2 separate regions of the Homo sapiens genome follow, and region 2 is linked to region 1. Evidence: fine-mapped expression QTL. Tissue or cell type: whole blood. Region 1 holds a variant in brackets; the other region holds the start of a gene. All regions are shown on one strand. Distances are between the middles of the regions.

Region 1 (4,238 bases):
TCATGTTGAATGCCTGCCAGTATTAACCTAAGGGTCGATGTCTTGGCAGTTGGCTGTGATCATCATTCTTTACCTCAGCCTTTATTTTGCTTCTCTTAAAAATGCAAAGACTAAGCAACGGCATTTGAATATGCCACATTTTAGCAGAGGTTTATAAAAACAAGAGCATTTACAGAGATACTAAGCTACCTAATCACTCGGCCCACCATGAAATGAGGCACTTTTATTCCAGCACAGGTTTTCAGACTCAGCTCCACTGCTGCTGATCAAACAGATCCCACTGCTGTGGAGGATCTCAACTGTGCCCCAGCCACCTCCTGCCTGCAGCTGTGCCTCTATGAGCACTCACGGACCGACACATCATCCACATAATCGCAGGGGAGGATGTAAAGTTCCATCCACCAAGGGAGCCAGGTAAAGCCGGGAAGCCTGAGGAGCGCGCGCTGTGGACCTGGCCTTGCTAACAGGCTCTGGCACTGAGAATGGAGCCTTTCAGAAGCACACAATCTTCCTTGGTGCTGGTCTCCAAGGATTATCCCACATTGTCCTTGAGCTGAGGCTTTTCTATTTTTTGCCAATATAGGGGTAAAGTAATGACCACAGGGAACAAACTGAGCCTGGGAGGAAGGCTCACAGAGGACTAGGGCTTGAAACAGGAGTCCTTCCTAGGCCAGCGTCCAATGGCTGGTGGAAAGGGTCTCTCAACCTATGCACTCATTTCACCTGCTCCCAGCAGGTTCCTGTGTCTCCAAGGTTACTCGTGCTCCCTGCAAAGAGCTGACGCTAACTGAGGCGAGACAGTGGGCTAGGCTCTTGTCCCCTTCCCCAGTGTGGTGGTGGCACTCACAATAGTAGGTCCTCAAGGTAAGTTTGGTCCACAAAAACAGATACCCATAAAAGTGAAATAGCATGAAACACTGCTGCGCAGCCCTTGGGCCATGATTTGATTAACAAGAAATAATCCCATTCGAGGCAGATGGGAACCAGCTCTGATATATACTGGTAATACTGATCGGATACTGTTGTCAAAGAGAAGTAAATGAGGTAATGCACAAAACGAATGCCACACAGTGCCTGGCACAGACTCAATAAATGGAATCGATTGTAAGGAGTATCCACAGATGCTACTAAACAAATTACAGAAAGTGCACGCCTACAAATCTAAATTGTCGGCATATGTTCCTTCATATGAAGACAATGGCGTTCTGCTTCCACTAACAATTCCTAATTCATCCATTTGTTTTGTTCATTTGTTCTCCGCTGATTCACAGGATCCCACCCAGATATTATTATAAAAATGTACAAGTCCAATGAAGACAGAAGTTAGAGAGAATTCTGTCACTCACTCACTCATGTCCACATCAGTATATACTAATGCTCTAACAGTGTAAGCTGTGAGTGTATTTCATTTTTAAAGTCTGTAACCTACTGATTTTATTGCTCCTAACTGTCTCTGCTTGAGTTTGAAAACTGAACATACTGGTTCACTGTGGTGGTTCTTAATCTTTCGGAGAGGAGACTTCTGAGTATCAAGTAACACCTAAGGCCCTTCTCCCCAGTCACAAACGGACGTAAACACAACATTTGGTAGACAACACTGGGGGTCAGGGACTCCTGTGTTATTACAAAGTTAAGCTGTGAGTTTGTACAAGCATTGTGTATCAACAGAAGGAATGTACCTGTGCGACTGCTGAAAAAGAACTCCAACTCCTCAGAAAGCCCAGTCAAGATGCTGCACAGATCATCGGGACATTTCTTCCCGGAAAACTGGTATCGTCAAATTAATTAGCACCTTCTAAGAAAACTGTCCTTTCGTCCATTTGTTTTTTTCCTGATTTCACACCCAGAAAGACTGTAAAAAAAAATTTGTCATATACAGCCCTGAAACTGCTCCCACACAATTACTTTCAGGGCTGTCTGATAATTTAATACCTAAGAAAATGTTAAGAAAAATTCATTCACATAAAATCCTCTTATAACTGTCATGAGTGCTTTGGACCACATAAAGGTAAGACGAGCAAACAGTGAGACGTGTTTGCTTCTGCCCAGGCAAATGGAACAAATCAAATTCCAAGAGTTACCTAATGCACCAACCTATGTCACCACAGGTGTCCTCGTTTGGTTAACAGTGAAACAAGACAGCTTTTAAGAGAGAAGCAGGTTTCTTGCACATGAAGAATTCCTTAGTGCCACGATGTAGCTATTTAGGTGCAGATCCAAACAGGCCCTTTACTCTTAACTAATTTGAAACCCACTTAATTCACTCCACGATGCAAAAGGAAAATATATGGATTTTAAGAGAACTTGTTACACAAGATGGTGAAACTGCTCATTTTTTTTTTTTTTTAGAAGTGTGCCAACCGGCCAGAGAACGGCAGTTACCACAGAATGTATTTTGCTGGTGCCCACCATTACAATGGGATGAACCAAAGGTTGGTGTGCCAGGAATGTTCCTATAATGTTCTCACTTAATGCTCACAGCAACCTTGTAGGGTAGGTAGCTCATATTCCCATTTTATAGACAGAAAAATTAAGGACCAAAACATGGAGAGTAACCCATCCGAAGTCACAATGCAATTAAC[T/G]GGTGCAGCTGGTATGTGAATCTGGTCTCTTAATTCCAAAGCTATGTTCTGGTGTATCACAATAAATTCTGCATGCTGCACATCTCCTAACACTCAAGGTATAGCTGGGTCAGCAACTTTCCCCCTCTCCCCTCCAGCCAACATACACGCACACTCCAGGCTCATTTTAAACAAGCTATCCATTTTCAAAGTACTGATCAATCTGCATCTAATGCAAAAGCAACACTGAAGCCCAAGCAGTATATTCCCACCCACTAAAAAAAATTTTTAGGCAGGTTTTTTTTTTAATGTGCTTAGCATAGAAACTGAAGGTAGGGGGAAGCACAAGAATCATTTGCTATGAAAACAAAGTTCACCAATTCCATGTACTTTCTGACAATCACCCATGAGATTTATAGGATCCTGTCTTTAAAACTTAAAAGGGTCAGACAGAAATTGAGTAAGTATCACTTTTTCTTGATTTAATATTTTCTGCACTCTACTACAACCCCAAATTTTATCTTGGCATACAAACAGTAATTTACATTATCTTCTATCCTGAATTCCTGGATTTATAATAACTAAAAATAGGTATTAAGCTTACCACTCAAATTTGATCTTATCAAACAAGCCCATGACCCACCTAACAAGGGAAGGACACTGTGGATCACACCTTTAGCAATTAACAAAATTCCTAAAATCAAGTAGATTTGGAATCTTAAACCCCTGGTCCAAAAATCCAAGATTGAGACCACTGACAACATATGATATTTATTATTATTATTGATACTTTTTCCTTATTTTCTTGGATATCAAAGGGAAATTATAATTTCAACATTAGTGCTAATCCTACAAAAATTACAGTCCATCGTGTGTAAACAGTCAAGGAGATTGTTCCACATATAAAAGATCAAAACTACAACTATTATCATCATGGTGCTGCCCACAGCGTAAACCTGCTACAGAAGATTAGAAGACTTGGGACCCAGCTATGACCAACATTAACATCGTCATGGCAAAAGCACCAAGACAAGAGGTGGACAGTAGGAACTCTCATTTCTCACAGGCCCTTAGACATTCTGCTTATGGCCAGTAATCTCTTTATTCCAGAGAAGCAGGCTCTGATAATCCCAAACATGAAAGACAAAAATGTAGCCAACAGAACCAGAAAGGCATATCCTACATCTCAAACTGGCAACAGAATGAAAACTGAACCTGAGAGGCCAAATGGTAAAAAGAATAACAAAAGGCTCAGAAACTGCATTGTTGCCCATTCTAAACGGCATTGCAACTTCAAACATTGCACATAATTCCGTCTTGGGGTTCTAAACATGGGTGAACAAACCAGTTTGCCTTCATTTTTCTGGCATGTGGTGTTTCAGGAAATCTACAAAAGACTGCCCCAAGAGGTAGGTTTATAAATACAAGAAAAAAGATTGTTTATCGCTGTAGTTTTCATTTAAAAAAAAAAAAAAAAAGGGTAGGGGAATTTTAGCCTAAGCAATGCTGAATTAGTTTTCTTTTTAACCGGCCAATCCTTTGCTACTCTCCATAACTGGTAACAGACAGCTAATTCACTAAGAGTGAAATTAGTTTTTCATCATTCAGACACTGATTAAACTAACAAGAACATATAAAATTGAAAGTCATGAAAAGTATCAAATTAGCAGTATTTTA
Region 2 (4,238 bases), 61 kb after region 1:
TACGCATATCCACACCAAGAGAGACAGGAAGATCTGCCAAACGTTAACAATGGTTATCTGAAGAGGGGAAGGTTATGCCCAATTTCTGTTTCTTCTTTGTGCTTTTCTCTACTTTCCAATTTTCTACAGTGAGAATCTTTTGTTATGTTTTGTACTTACAAAATTAATACATTCTTACAGATTTAAACTGTACTGTTTCAGGCCCTGTCCACAAAATAAGGAAAAAACAAACCTGAACATACCAACCTTTCAATTAAAGAAACCACCTTCAGAATCAACAAAAGCAAACATTTACTGAGCAGTATTATCATGTTCTGGCACTTTTCTAAGCACTTAAAATGTATTAACTTATTTCAATCAAACCAAAACAGATGTGTTGAGTAAAAAGAGCCCTGGAATCACAGAAAATGTAAATGAGTTTTAGTTCCACTGTGAATTTTGATTTGTTTCCATAGCTCGAAATGAGGGGGTTTAATAAAAATGATCTTTAAAGGTCATCTCAAGGCTAAACTAAGATTCTACATGTAAAAATTTGGCCAATAAGTGTTAGTCCGGAAGCCTCAAGAGTGATGGGGCAGTTTGGACCATCTCAAAAACACAGAACCCTACTAAAAAAGAACGTATGACAGTGTGTCTCAGTTCCTCCTCCTTAATATATGTAAATTTCCTATCATGTTTTTTTTTAAAAGGCCTACATTTTTCTAATACTTGGACACAACTGATCAAACCGAGGCGAAGTGTGTACCATTGTAAAAGAAATCATTGAAGAGTTCCATTTGTTGTTAAAAGTTTCGGTCACTTTTAATAAACCTGGAGTAAACAAAAACTTAAACATTTTAGTCGAGTTCTGGGGTAAAAATGATTCTTCTAGTGTCTGGTTAAAGGGATCTAAGGACCTACTGGGATTCAGCAAAAGACGTTCCACGTCTCAAATACACCCAAAATCTCAATACAACACTAAAAGAAAAGTGAGGGGCCAGCACGAAATTTCTGTTAGGGGAAATTTCAGCTGCGTAGTTAAGGAAATCAGGACTTCCCGGTTAACTATGGGGTCTTTGCCGCAGCTCACAGCCCGACACAAAGCTACAAGCCCGGAGGGTCGGTGGCTCACGCGTGGATCGAAAGAACCACGAAGGTTTGGGGAATGACACTGACCTGTTAGGTTTACTTCATGTCTCACTTACCACCATCAAAAGAGGTTCATTGATAGCTTTATTAGCAAAATTAGTAACAGAGTTGCACGTCTGTAACACACACACACGCGCGCGTGCGCACACACACACATACACCCGTGGGTCTATGGGAACATTGAGGGAGACAATCTCCAGGTTAAAACCACACAAAAACTATTTGGGAAACACAAAGACGCAAGACACAAAACAAATTTGGAGTGCAAATGTGCAAGACACACTCAGTGGGAACACAAAAGAGAAAAGCACAGCGGCTTGACAATTGGGACGGCGCCCGGCCCCACGTGGGGCCCCAGGTGGCCCCACCGCCGCCCGCACCCGGCCAGTCTCTGCAGCCCGCACGCGTCCCCCGCGGGGCGCGCGGCTCTTCACGGCGACAAACCGAATCCCGAACTTCGCCGCAGGGACCCCACGGCCGACAAGGAGGAGCCCGGCGCCGCCACCCACCCGCGGGGCCACCGACCCGGAGGCCCGCGCCTCGTCCCGGGGCCCCCGGCACGCCCGGGACCTCTGAGGGGGCGCGTCCGCCGACCCGGCCATCCCTGCGGCGCCGGGTCCCCAGCGTGTCGCCGCCGCCGTCGCCGCCGCGCTCCTCGGGGGGAGGGACCAGCGTCCCGGCGCGAGCCCAGAGGCCGCCCACCCGCGCCACTCCTTACCCGCGCCCGCCGCGCCAGCGCCTCAGAGCACCGAGGGCCGCCGCCGCCGCCGCTGTTTCGCCGGCCCCGGCGCCCGCGGCCGCGCCGCCGCCATCTTGACTCCAGTCGGAAGTGACGTCGGGCGGCGAGGCAGTGGCCTGCGGGGCTGGGGGGCTCCGGGACCCCCGGTCTCCCCACGATCCCAGAGCCCGGCCCTTGACCCTGCGCCGTCGCCCAATGGCCACCACCCAGCCGCCCCTCGTAGGTCACCGCGGATCCCATGGCGGCGCCTCGGGAAGGAACCCCGGCGGCTGGCGTCGCGGCAAGTCCGACCGCACCCTAGGGCTAGGATCCTGCGTGGTTCAAAGATTCTCAAAGAATCAAAAAGACTGAAGGAGGTGTTGGGGGGGCATGTCTATCGTTGGAGGTCATTAAATATCTGACAAGTACATAAACGTAGACCTTATACTTCTACGTTTGGATCTATACCAAAAAGATCCAACTCCAGGCAGACAGACGCAGCTGCTGGGTTTATTTGCTGCCCTAGTACCCAGGAGCAGTGACCAACGCTGCCCTGTGCCCGCGATGTTCCAGTGCAGCGCCTCTGAGAGCGCGGTAGTAGTCCTGCCCTTAAGGAGCTTGCTGTTCCCAAGCGGGCAAACAAATGGACTGCAGAGACGACGACTCATAGATGTTCTGATGAAGATGAACTGGGTGGAACTGGAGATGGCTCTTCGACATCCAAGGGTGGAGGCCTAGCACGTGGTTGAAAATGAGTTGAGTCGGGGAGAAGCACAGGCTGGAGATGAGCTGGAAAGTTGGGAGTTGTCGTTATAGATGGTGCCTGGAGCCTTCAGCACTTCAAGATAAAGTAATCCTCTGAGAATGAAGTCAGGAAGAATCCGAATGTGATGGCTACGTTGGCCATCTGCAGAAAGCACCCAGTGGAAAAACAGGATACTAAGGGCAGGTGTGCTTCCAAAAATTATGAACGATCATTTATGTAACAGGTTTAATCTTAAGAAAACGTGTTGGCCGGGCGCAGTGGCTCACGCCTGTAATCCCAGCACTTTGGGAGGCCAAGGCAGGTGGATCACGAGGTCAGGAGATCGAGACCATCCTGGCTAACACGGTGAAACCCCGTCTCTACTAAAACTACAAAAATTTAGCCGGCCGACGTGGCGGGTGCCTGTAGTCCCAGCTACTCCGGAGGCTGAGGCAGGAGAATGGCGTGAACCCAGGAGACGGAGCTTGCAGTGAGCCAAGATCGCCCCACTGCTCGCCAGCCTGGGCGACAGAGACAGACTCCATCTCAAAAAAGAAAGAAAACGTGTTGTATCAACATATATCATGTTATCTTATTGTAAAAGAATGAGGCTAGGCCGGGCGCGGTGGCTCAGCCTGTAATCCCAGCACATTGGGAGGCCGAGGCGGGTGGATCACGAGGTCAGGAGATCGAGACCATCCTGGCTAACACAGTGAAACCCCGTCTCTACTAAAAATACAAAAAATTAGCCAGGCGTGGTGGCGGGCGCCTGTAGTCCCAGCTACTCCGGAGGCTGAGGCAGGAGAATGGCGTGAACCCGGGAGGCGGAGCTGGCAGTGAGCCAAGATGCCCCACTGCTCTCCAGCCTGGGTGACAGAGCGAGACTCAGTATCAAAAAAAAAAAAAAAAAAAAGAATGAGGCTATAGCTGATGATCGAGTCGGTTATAGTAAACAAATGAAGATCACCTCATTAGAGTAAATTTTATTAAGGCCTTGAGAAGTGACAGGGCTTAAGAAAATAAGGAAATAAATCAAACCTCAAGGGTTTGCTTATTTCTTCCGCTATTCAAGGAAAAGAGACCCTAGATCTGGGAGATACCACGTGCCTGTCATCAAAGTAGTATTCTCTGTTGTGGAGCAAAGTCATCAGACTTCTGCACCCCTTACCTAGATTAATACCTTCCAACTGGATCCATGCATCGAAATTATCTGGGGTATCTATGAAGAAAATAGGGAGACCCCACTGTTCCATCCACCATCAAAACACTGACATAGAAATCACCATTTTAAGAGAAAAGCTATGGGCCACCTGGCATTCAATAGAATGCAAAAGGAAAATAAAGGATGTTAAATCAGAAGTGGCACGGTGAACCAGAATGGATACTAGATGGTTGGTTAACAGAGTAGCCAGTAGTTGTCTTTCCGGTTATTAATTCATTAATCCAAAGTGACTGGCTATATTAGTTTCCTGTGGCTGCTGTAACAAATTATCCCAACCCTGACAACAGAAGTTTATTCTGTCACAACTCTAGAGGCTAGAAGTCCAAAATCAGTATCACTAGGCCAAAATTAAGGTGGCAGCAGGGCCGGGCTCCCTCTGGAGTCTCTAGCAGAGAATTGCTCCTTCCCTTTTCCAGCTTCTGGTG

The links. PIP is the estimated chance that this variant, and not a neighbour inherited with it, causes the effect.
Region 2: PRDM2 starts here. The variant in region 1 is the best candidate, but not a certain one, in a credible set for the expression of PRDM2 in whole blood (TOPMed, PIP 0.73).

The regions. Positions count from the first base shown.
Region 1 is chr1:13,758,964-13,763,201 of GRCh38, reverse strand. The region is part of intron 6 of PRDM2 (PR/SET domain 2); the gene reads right to left. Among named protein-coding and RNA genes, the nearest start is that of PRDM2, 61 kb to the right of the region's middle. The variant T/G (reference allele first, on the strand shown) is at 2,583.
Region 2 is chr1:13,697,909-13,702,146 of GRCh38, reverse strand. PRDM2 (PR/SET domain 2) reads right to left here and starts at 1,959. Exons shown (of 10, transcript NM_001393986.1): 1 at 1,847-1,959. RefSeq lists a silencer at 1,437-2,206.